Regions from separate parts of the Homo sapiens genome. Here region 2 is linked to region 1. The links come from fine-mapping of genetic effects on gene expression. A gene starts in region 1. The other region holds a variant in brackets. All regions are shown on one strand. Distances are between the middles of the regions.

Region 1 (5,378 bases):
CCCTGTCTCTACTAAAAATACAAAAATTAGCTGGGCATGGTGGCACACACCCGTAATCCCAGCTACTCAGGAGGCTGAGGCAGGAGAATCGCTTGAACCAGGGAGTCGGAGTTTGCAGTGAGCCAAGATCACACCACTGCACTCCAGCCTGGTGACAGAGTGAGACTCTGTCTCAAAAAACAAACAAACAAACAAAAACACCAAAGCAAAATGAAACAAAAATAAAACTACAGCAAGCATTATAACTAATGGTGAACTATTGATATCTTTCCTTCTGAGATCAGGAAATCAGGAATGGGGCAAGAGTGTCTGCTACTATTACTTCTTTCCAAAATTATACTGGTGATATTAGCCAGTGCAACAAGGCAAGAAAAAGAAACAAAACTTATAAGAATTGAAAAGAAAAAACTAAAACTCTCATTTTTACAGATGAGATAGAAATTTTTTTTTAAAGCCAAAGAATCTACAGATGAATTACTAGAATTAATAAATGAGTTTGGCAATGTTGCTGGATACAAGGGCATTATTTAAAAATCTATTTATACTATGTTTCAGACCTATATTGCTAAGTAACAAATCACTCCAAAACTTTGTGGCTTAAAATAACAATAATCATTTATTATCTCTCATGGTTTCTGTGCATTTTGGATTCAAGAAGGGCTCATCTGCACAGTTCAGCCTTTTTCATGTGGGTACAGTCAGATAGCAGATGGAACAGGAACAGCAGGAGCTGGCAGAGCTGGGGACTGGCTAGGAATCCCTCTTTACTTAGTATCAGGGTCTCTGCATATGATTTTTCTGTGTGGGTTAGTTTGGGCTTCTTCAATGCATGGCAGCCTAAGAGAGAGTTCTCATATGATGGCTTAGTGTTCCAAAGACAAAAGTCCTGAGAGAGGGAGCCAGGTAGAAGCCCTATTAATTTTATGATCTAGCTAGCCTCAGAAGTCACATAGATTCACTTCTGTCACATTCTTTTTGTTAAAACCCATTCGCTAAGACTAATCCCTTCCCGAGGGGAAGAGTGTTAGACTCTACTTCTTGGGAAAGGTGTCAAAGAATTTGTGGACATGTTGTAAAACAACAACCCTGTACTGACAACAAACAGAAAATAAAATAAAGAAGCCATTCATAATAGCAACAAAAAACACCCGGGGCTAAATTTAATAAAAGATGTGCAAGGTCTCCACGTAGAAAACTACAAAACATTGCTGAGATAACTTTTTTAAAAACCCAAAATAAATGAAGGGACATACCATGTTCATGGATAAGAAGTTTTACTATTGAAAATGTTAATTTTATTCCAATTGATCTAAAGGTTCAAAGTGATACCAATTGAAATCCCAGCAAGATTGTGTTAGTGTGTTTGTGTGTATATATATAAATAGGTATGCTGATTCCAAAATTTCTGTGAAAGTGTAAACATCAAGAATAGCCAATGCAGTCTTAAAAGAACAAAATGGGTAGGCTTATTTCATGGGACATTTAGACTTATAAGCCCACAGTAATCCAGACATTGTGATAATGGCACAGGGAGAGAAAAATAGGCTAACAGAACAGAATAGAGAATTCAGGAACAGTCTTATGCACATATCGACTACTTGATTTACGACAATGTTAGCATTGCAGAAGAGTATGTGTGTGTGTGTAGGGGGGTGGTGGTGGTGGTGGTGATCTTTTCAATAAAGAGTGCTGGTCAGTTGGATATCCAGATGAAAAAAATGGACACAGGACAATGGAAATTTTTTTCTGATGAGGTGTGGCATTGTATTTCTAGAAACAATGACTGCTGAAATTTATTTGGAAGTTCTTTCCTTTCTGAGCTATAATTTCCCTCTGTTGTTCCCAAGCCTTCAGTGAATGCCTGTTTCCCACACCTATCTTTTGTTAATGCATCTTTCTTATGGTCCTAGTTCTAGGCCAGGACCAGCAAAGCCCAAGCAGCAGTTGAGAACTAAGTTCTAAGCTAGCTCCTGAGTGGGCAGGAAGCTCAAGTCCTTTTCTCCCAATGGCATCCTATATCCTGGTGCCACACAAGAATGCCATTCTGGCTGACTTCGCCTCCTGGCCTCTCCCAGTCAGACATACCTGGAGCAGTCAGTGAGCAGTGAGATTGCTAGGGGAGATTGCTAGTGTAGACAATTCTTGCATGAAAAGGGGGATGGGGGTGCAACAGTCTAGCAACCAGCAAGTGATATCAAGAACTAGAGGGTTTTTTTTTTTTTTTTGGTTGGGGAGGAACCCCATTTCACAGTCACCTTTCTGACCCACCATCAGAGCCATCCCATTCCAATCTCATTTTCTTCCTTTCCTCACTCCAAGAGACCGTGACTGTGGGCAGATCCTAGACCCCTCTTCAGAGCTTCGGGCTCTAGGCATTCCTGCGGCCCTCCCCTCCCTATCATTAAAAGGGGTGGGGTCCTGCTGCCTTCTCCAAGTGGTTTCAGCTCTGGATCCTTTGGGGGCAACGGAGCCCACCCGCCTGGAGCTCCATTACTGATGCTGCAAGTTTTTGACTCAGTTTCCCCATATGTGAGTGAGAGTTTAAGCGCGGCAATCTCCAGGGGGGGCTGTCAAGCTGACTCAGATCAGTGAGACGAGGAGGGGGCGGGCATGCTAAGAGCATCCTCCGGCGCTGGCCTGCGTCCCCCCAGGTAAGGCAGCACCCATCTCCAAAGTGGTCCTGTCACCACCTTCCTCTTCCCCCCGCACCCACGCCGCGGGGCGGGGACTAGCGCCGCCTCAAATATTTAGGGCAAGGGAGTGTCCCACTTCTGGGGAGGGGTGCCGTTCGGGCTTCTCTCCTCACCGTGGGTGGCGAAAGGCGGGACGGAAAAGCGCCGTCTGGACAGGCGCGCCCCCCTCAGGGATGCAGGGCCGGGCGGGGGACCCGGCGGCGGCCCAGCCCGGAGGAAGGACCTCCACGCCCCGGCCCGGGCCCCCGGGCCCCCGGCCCTAGGCAGCGCCCGAGGCCGGAACAATAGCGCGCGCGGGCGGGGCGGGGGCGGGGGCGGGGCGCTCCTCTGGGCACCGCCCCCGGCCCGCCCCCCGCGCTCGCAGTCCCGCTCGCACACTGGCTCCCACCCGCCGCCCGCCCAGGCACTGCCCGCGGGAGCCGCCGCCGCCGCCGCCGCGCCCGCCATGGACGTCCGCCTGTACCCCTCGGCGCCCGCGGTGGGCGCGCGGCCCGGGGCCGAGCCGGCCGGCCTGGCGCACCTGGACTATTACCACGGCGGCAAGGTAGGCGGGGGCGGGCGGGGGTCCCCGGCGGGCGGGGCCGGAGTCACCTGGCAGCTCGGGACTCAGGCGCTCCCGGGGTCACACGGGGCCGCGCACATCAGCCCCGCCGACGGGCACGGGCGGCTCACATCGATCCCCTCGCGGCCACGCTCACGCCCTGAGTTGTTGGGATCGCGGGCAGAAGTCATCCCGACAGCCACCCGTGCGACGACACAGTGGCCCCTCACTCGCGTCCCCCTGACAGCCTCGCAGTCATTCACAAGCCGTCACAGTGACCCACAGCCACACGCAGGCGGCCAGGCACTGCTTACACGGTCCCGCCGTCCCACGCAAGTCACCCTGACAGTCACTTATACACAACGACACGCAACCACTCACCCGCAAACAGCCTCACCGCCACAGACGAGTCACCCACAGACGCTCCGATGCCCCACACACCGTGACATGCCCCCACCCGCTGTCACACCCAGGCACAACGGGGGACAGTCACACAAAGAAGTCGCCCGACAGTCACACTCTCGCAGCCACAACGCCTCACCCAGGCGCACGCTGTCACACACAGCCACCCCCCTGGACGGTGAGCCTCAGACACAGATCGTCCTGACGGCCACACAGTCACACGCGGTCACACCCAGGGACGGCCACACCTCGGTCATCCACACTCGCGCGTCGAGGTTTAACTTCTCAGCGCCGCAGCACACTAATTGGGCAGTTTACTAATTGGCCGTCACTGCCTGGCGGGGCCTCGGATTCCGAGTAGGCTGCGGCCAATCGAGGCCTGTGTCCTCCCGGGAGCGGTGAGCCGGCGTCCCTCCAGGCTGGGGCTGTAGTGCCGGACACCCTCCCTCCTCCATGTTTCCAGGATCTATCCCCCCACCCCAGCCAGGTCCCAGCTGCGCTGCGCCGGGCGCATTCCCAGTGATGGAGGCTTGCGTGCCTGGAACCCCGAACCCGAGGCGTCAGGTCCCACTGCCGGGTCTGGCCCAGCCTGGATGGGTTGGGTGCCTCTAAGCAGTCCGCGTCCCCTTCGGTCGCCGGAGAGGGAACTTTCAAACTTAGTTAGGAAGCCAGACTGTCCGCGCGTCCGCCAGTCGGTGCGTCGGTCCCGGGCCGGCTGGAGCCAAGCGCGGGTTTTCGTCACTCGGAGCCCGGATTGAACAGCGCGCGTGGGTTTCCCGCAGCCCTGGCGCAGACGCGTGGGCTCCGTGGCGATGCGGGGTGAGTGCGCGTCCAGTGGCTGGATCGGCGCCCCCCAGGGTCTCTCCCCAACCTCGCAGGCTTTTCGTCAGGCCCCTGGTAGTGGGGATGAGGCAGGAGAGAGGCGTCCCGGCGCGGATCCCGGGGCCTCCCGGGCTGGGCCTCCCTGAGTGCGCCCTCAGGCCCCAGGGGAGCGGCTTCTGGCAAAGCCTCCCTGCAGTTCGCCAGGGGCAGCAAGCATCCAGGCCACTAGGGCCTGCGCGATGTGGGGCGGTGGTGGGCGACAAGTGAGGTCTCGCGAAGAGTGGCGGTGGTTCTCTTTTGTCCAGTGACCTGCAAAGTTAGAAGCCGATGAGGGGGGATGGTAGCCTCAGGAGAAGGCCGGGAGCTGCCTCCAGTCTGATGGAGGAAAATAGATTAAAAGTAGCAAGTGGAGTTTTCAGGGAGGAGAAGGTTGGGTGTGGGGGCAGCTGGTCTGTCTTCTGCCCTTGGCTTTGTTATTTTTCAAAATGTGAAGTTGGCGAGGTAGGTACCAGCCTCTGGTTTGCGGGTGTGGGTGGGCTGGGCATTTGTGCCTCAAAGTCTGAGTGGGTGGGGGTTTAGCCTGGAGCGCTCCGTTTGAGGGTGGTGTTTCTATAAATCTCGCCAGGGTGGGGCTGTCCCAAATAGGGGCCTTTGGAGGCAGGACTCAGCCGAGGCCCCTGCTTTATTCTGATGCTCTGTAAACCTCTGACTCAGCACCAGAACCTGTGCGAATCTCGCCGGGAAGGGCCCGTCAGGGAGGGAATGAGAAGCCGGCGATTCTGGTTTCTTTCTGTGTGGGATGTAGGACCCCTGGCCCATAGCTGAGGATGTGTCCAGAGTGGGGCGGGGCAGGGATGGGGGTGGGGATGCAGCTGAGCCACTTGATAGGTGAAAGGAAGGTCTGACTTTGCACTTGGATG
Region 2 (5,378 bases), 63 kb before region 1:
GAGTGCAATGGTATGATCTCGGCTTACTGCAACCTCCTCCTCCCGGGTTCAAGCGATGCTCCTGCCTCAGCCTCCTGAGTAGCTGGGATTACAGGTGTGCGCCACCATGCCTGGCTAATTTTTGTATTTTTAGTACAGACAGCGTTTCACCATGTTGGCCAGGCTGGTCTCGAGCTCCTGACCTCAGGTGACTCGCCTGCCTCAGCCTCCCAAAGTGCTGGGATTACAGGTGTGAGCCACTGTGCCTGGCCAAAACTTGGGTTTTTCCAGCAGTATGGAGTTGTGAAAGGCTGGCCATTCGCGGGGTTTGGGAGCCATCCCTTAGGCCTCCTGGGACTCTCAACCCTTTGCAATCCTCATGATCAAACACTCCTGACCTTTCTGAGCCATGGGCCTCTTCTCTGAGCACATCTTTTAAATGCACAAAATAAAAATATATTAGATTACAAAGGATTCCAATTATGTTGAAACATGGTTATCAAAATATTAAAAACACTTTTGATATAGTAATAAATGTACTTCTTCATTAATGCACTAAATAACAAGCGCTAGGGACAGGTCTAATTAGCATCTTAACTTTGAAGTGGTACTGGGTGTAAACGATCTATGGAGATAGTAGCAATGACTGTAATGCGATATGAAAATATCTATATTTCTTTTGGTGACAAAGCCAAGAACACCACTAATACAACTGTGGTTTGTTGTTGACATTCGCAAGGGAAGGAAATGCTAACTTTCAGGGCAGTGGTGCTGAAGAGACAGATGTAATATTTTTTCCACCTCCCAAGATTACCAACTCCCTCCGTGAGGATCCCCTGTCATTCATGGGGTTAGGGGTGAACAGGACGGGGCTCGGACCCCAGGGTGAAGTGCTCATGACCAGAGGCCCTTCCATGGCTAAAACTAGGGGCGCAACAGGAGCTGATCCCCAGGGCAGGCCTCCCGCAGCAGGCAAACCTGAGATCTGGGAAGGGCCTGCCCTTCCTCCCTGCGGCCCTGGTGAGTCACAAAACGTCCTTTCTCAGGAAGACCAAATATAAACAGTTCAGGATTATCTTGAGAACAAGATGTTTGTTTACTTTCTAAAATTGCAGACATGGCAAAGTGCTGAGGCCTACAACTGCAATTAATAATAATTTAGGCCCATCGCTCCCAGGGCAGAGCTGCATCTCCGTGTTAGAGACAAAGACCCATCTTTTCCTTGTTTTGTGTTCAGGCAACATGACGTTATTTCTCCCTAGTCATAGATATTTTTATTGCTTGTATCACCCCAGATTATACAAGCAATACATGCTCATTGTAAAAATTTCAAAATACTACAGAAAGTAAAATTTTCCCCATTTTAACTCATTCCCAGAGAGAACCGCTAATAATGTATTCGATCCACTGTGCTTTTCGTCTCCATGCCTGTACTCACACACATTACCGTTCATATAATTTCTTTTTCCAAATGGCATTCTGTGAAAATTGTTCTACAACTTGCACTTTTTTTTTTTTTTTTTTTTTTTTTTTTTTTGAGATGGAGTCTTGCTCTGTCACCCAGGCTCGAGTGCTCGGCTCACTGCAGCCTCTACCTCCTGGGTTCAAGCGATTCTCCTGCCTCAGCCTCCCAAGTAGCTGGGACTACAGGCACCTGCCATCACACCTGGCTAATATGTGTACTTTTGGTAGAGACGGGGTGTCACCATGTTGGCCAGGCTGGTCTCAAACTCCTGACCTCAGGCGATCCACCCGCCTCGGCCTCCCAAAGTGCTGGGATTACAGGCGGGAGCCACTGCGCCTGGTCTCAACTTGTACTTTTCACTGAAGATATCATAAATATTATTTGTTGATATGTCTGTCTCCTCAATTAGAAATTGGAGTTTCAGAAAAGGAAATACAGTACTTTATAAATCTTTTTAAATCAATGCGCCTTACCCAACAATTCATACATAATAGGATTCAACAAATATTTGCTGAGCTAGTGACCAAATTAATAAATACATAAATTTGTTTTTCAAAAAATAAATTGTGAACACCTTTGTATGTTCATTAAACAATACTTCATTGTTGCAGGGCTCCTGAGAGCTAAGTTGTAGGGACGTGACTGAATTTTTCAATGACCACTCACAGGTACATGGGTTGTTTCCAATTTTTCAAACCTGTTCTGCCCCAAACATCCTTAAAACATATATATCTTTGTATGCTTCTTTATGCATTTTTTAGACTCAAAGAAAGGCCTATTTAGATTGTACCAAATTACAAACCTATCACCACAGAATCTTTTTTATCTGTTCCCTCACCAACACTGAGTGTTTATTTATTTAGTGGATGTGAATGCACTTTATTCAACAAAAATGAGGCCTATTTCAAATATGCCAAAGGTGCTTCTATAATTCTTTCTAGTAACATTTCTAATTGGATTTTTATTCTTTTGAATATTTCAAAAGATAATATACTTTGAACAATTTCAAGCTTGTGGAAAAATTGCTAGAACAATACATAGTACTACCATATAGCCCTCACCAAGATCATCAAATTCTTAACATTTTATCACATTCTGGCTTGTGCGTGTGCTCTCTCTCTCTCTGTCTCTCTGTCTCTCTCTCCTTCCATTATTCTCTTTCTGAATCTTTGGAGGGCAAGCTGCACACATAGTATTCCATCATCTTTAAACACAGTCGTGTGTATTTCACCAGACCAAGTTCATTCTCTACCTAACCCCAATGCAACCCTCCAAATCAAGAAATCAACATCAGTACAAACACCACCACCCAATCCATGGACCCCATTCAAGCGTCCCAACAATTTGTCTTTTCCCCTCTGGTCCAGAACCTTCTCCAAGAACATGTATTGCATTTAGTTCTTGTGCATTTTCAGTTTCCTACAAGCTGGAACAGTTTCTCATTTTGCCCTGTCTTTTGAATCCTCAATGGTTTTTTTTTTTTTTTTTTTTTTTTTGAGACGGAGTCTCGCTCTGTTGCCCAGGCCGGACTGCGGACTGCAGTGGCGCAATCTCGGCTCACTGCAAGCTCCGCTTCCCGGGTTCACGCCATTCTCCTGCCTCAGCCTCCCGAGTAGCTGGGACTACAGGCGCCCGCCACCGCGCCCGGCTAATTTTTTGTATTTTTAGTAGAGACGGGGTTTCACCTTGTTAGCCAGGATGGTCTCGATCTCCTGACCTCATGATCCACCCGCCTCGGCCTCCC[G/A]AAGTGCTGGGATTACAGGCGTGAGCCACCGCGCCCGGCCTCCTCAATGGTTTTAAAGGGCTCCATTCTCTAGGGTGATACTCAACTCAGATCCATCTGAAGTTTCCTTGTGTCCACACTCAGCCCATGTTCCTGGGCAAGGAGGCCGCAGGATGCTGCTGCATTATTTCAGTGTATCATCTCAGGAGGCACAAGACGGTGACCACCTCTGGAGGTGTTAATCTCGACCACCAGGTCATCTTGGTGCCTGCCAGGTTTCCCCAGCGTATTTTTATTTTATTTTATTTTATTTATTTTTGAGACGGAGTTTAGCTCTTGTTGCCCAGGCTGGAGTGCAATGGCGCAATCTCAGCTTACTGCGATCTCCATCTCCCGGGTTCAAGCGATTCTCCTGCCTCAGCCTCCCAAGTAGGTGGGATTACAGGCGCCCGCCACCAGGCCCAGCTAGTTTTTTGTATTTTTAGTAGATGGTGTTTCACCATGTTGGCCAAGCTGATCTCGAACTCCTGACCTCAAGTGTTCTGCTCGCCTCGGCCTCCTAGAGTGCTGGGATTACAGGTGTGAGCTACTGTGCCCGGCCTTAGGTTTCCCCACCATAAACTCACCATTTCCCTTTTGTAATTGATTGGTATGTTGTGGGGAAGTTTCTGAGATGATGCCAATATTTTCTGTTCCTTGTTAAACCCCCTTCATGGATGACTTCTGGATCAGTCACCTTTGTGATATTGGCCAAATGGTAATTTTTGTATTCTCATCATTCCTTCTATACCTATGAGTTGATATTCTATTGTAAAAAAAGTCTTTTCCTTTTCCTTTTTGTATGTACGGGTGTATTTATATCAGCAGGAGCTCATGGATTTCTATTTTATAATTCATTTCTATCATTACCTAGTTTGACGATCAGAATCTTGTCTCCAGCCTGGGCAACGGAATAAGACCCTGTCTCAAAAAATAAAATAAAAATCCAGGCACAGTGGCTTATACCTGTAATTCCAGCACTTTGGGAGGCCGAGGCAGGCAGATCCTTTGAGCTCAGGAGTTCGAGACCAGCCTGGGCAACAGGACGAAATGCTGTTTCTAAAAAAAAATGCAAAAGTCAGCCGGGCGTGGTGGTGTGCCCCTGTAGTCCTAGCTACTTTGGGGGCCGACGTGGGGAGGATCATTTAAGCTCAGGAGGTGGAGGCTGCAGTGAGCCAAGATCACACCACTGCACTCCAACCTGGGTGACAGAGCCAGACTCTGTTGAAAAAACCAAGTCTTTTCCCAGATGGCAGGGACCCCTTCAAGAACACAGTGGCTGCCATGTCCTTTTGCTATGACTTCATCTTTCATTCACCATTTCCTTACTTTCTGGCATAATGAGATATTCTAGGTTCATCTCGTCATCATGCATTTTCTGCCTCAGCCTTGGCATTAGTCATTTCTTGGAGTAGCCCTGATTCATTTCAGTGAAGGGTGATATTTACAACCAAGATCTGGGCACTCAGTGTACTCATTACACCTGGGATGTAGGTATATGTGTGTGTGCGTGCATGCACATGTGTGTACACACATACTCCTGCTTATTCAACTAAAAATTATTTGCATGTGTGTCTCTCTCTCTATATATATATGTACATACACACACACACGCACACACACACGAATCATGAGTTTATACCAAAACCTCCAAATCCAATCCAATACCTCAAGGTTATTTCTAGCCTTCTCCTTTTACATTTGTAAATATCTTAGGCAATGAGAATCTTGGCTCTCATTATCCCCAATATATGTACTAATTTATTCAATTGCTTTGCTTATTTGTTTCATATAACCTATCTTCCACCATCGCAACATCCTCTCACCGTCCTGCATCTGCGGCTGCTGTGACTGTCAGCCCACACACCTCCACAAAGCCCCCCCCGACACCACCGCCCCAGCCAGCCTCCTCGGCCATGAGGCCCATGGGCCTCACACTTTGGCATGACCCCCCACCTCCAGCCCTGTGTCCTTGCCACTGACTAGTGCCTTCACCAGCCCACTTCCTGCATTATTTCCAATCACTCAATTTGGCCAATCTTACAGTTTCAACAAAAATATCAATGTTGTCATTTTAACTTTTTTTCTTTTTCTGAGACAGAGTCTCACTCTGTCACCCAGGCTAGAGTGCAGGGGCGCAGTCTCAGCTCACTGCAACCTCCGCCTCCCGGG

Evidence for each region. PIP is the estimated chance that this variant, and not a neighbour inherited with it, causes the effect. A credible set is the group of variants that fine-mapping cannot tell apart.
Region 2: its variant is the best candidate, but not a certain one, in a credible set for the expression of TOX2 in vagina (GTEx, PIP 0.56).

Annotation. Positions count from the first base shown.
Region 1 is chr20:43,911,754-43,917,131 of GRCh38, forward strand. TOX2 (TOX high mobility group box family member 2) reads left to right here and starts at 3,099. Exons shown (of 9, transcript NM_001098797.2): 1 at 3,099-3,237. The coding sequence starts at 3,139. RefSeq lists silencers at 2,750-2,869, 2,970-3,069, 3,090-3,199, 3,250-3,339, 4,410-4,469 and 1 more and enhancers at 2,836-3,553, 3,554-4,271.
Region 2 is chr20:43,849,003-43,854,380 of GRCh38, forward strand. No RefSeq gene overlaps it. Among named protein-coding and RNA genes, the nearest start is that of LINC01728, 43 kb to the right of the region's middle. The variant G/A (reference allele first, on the strand shown) is at 3,189.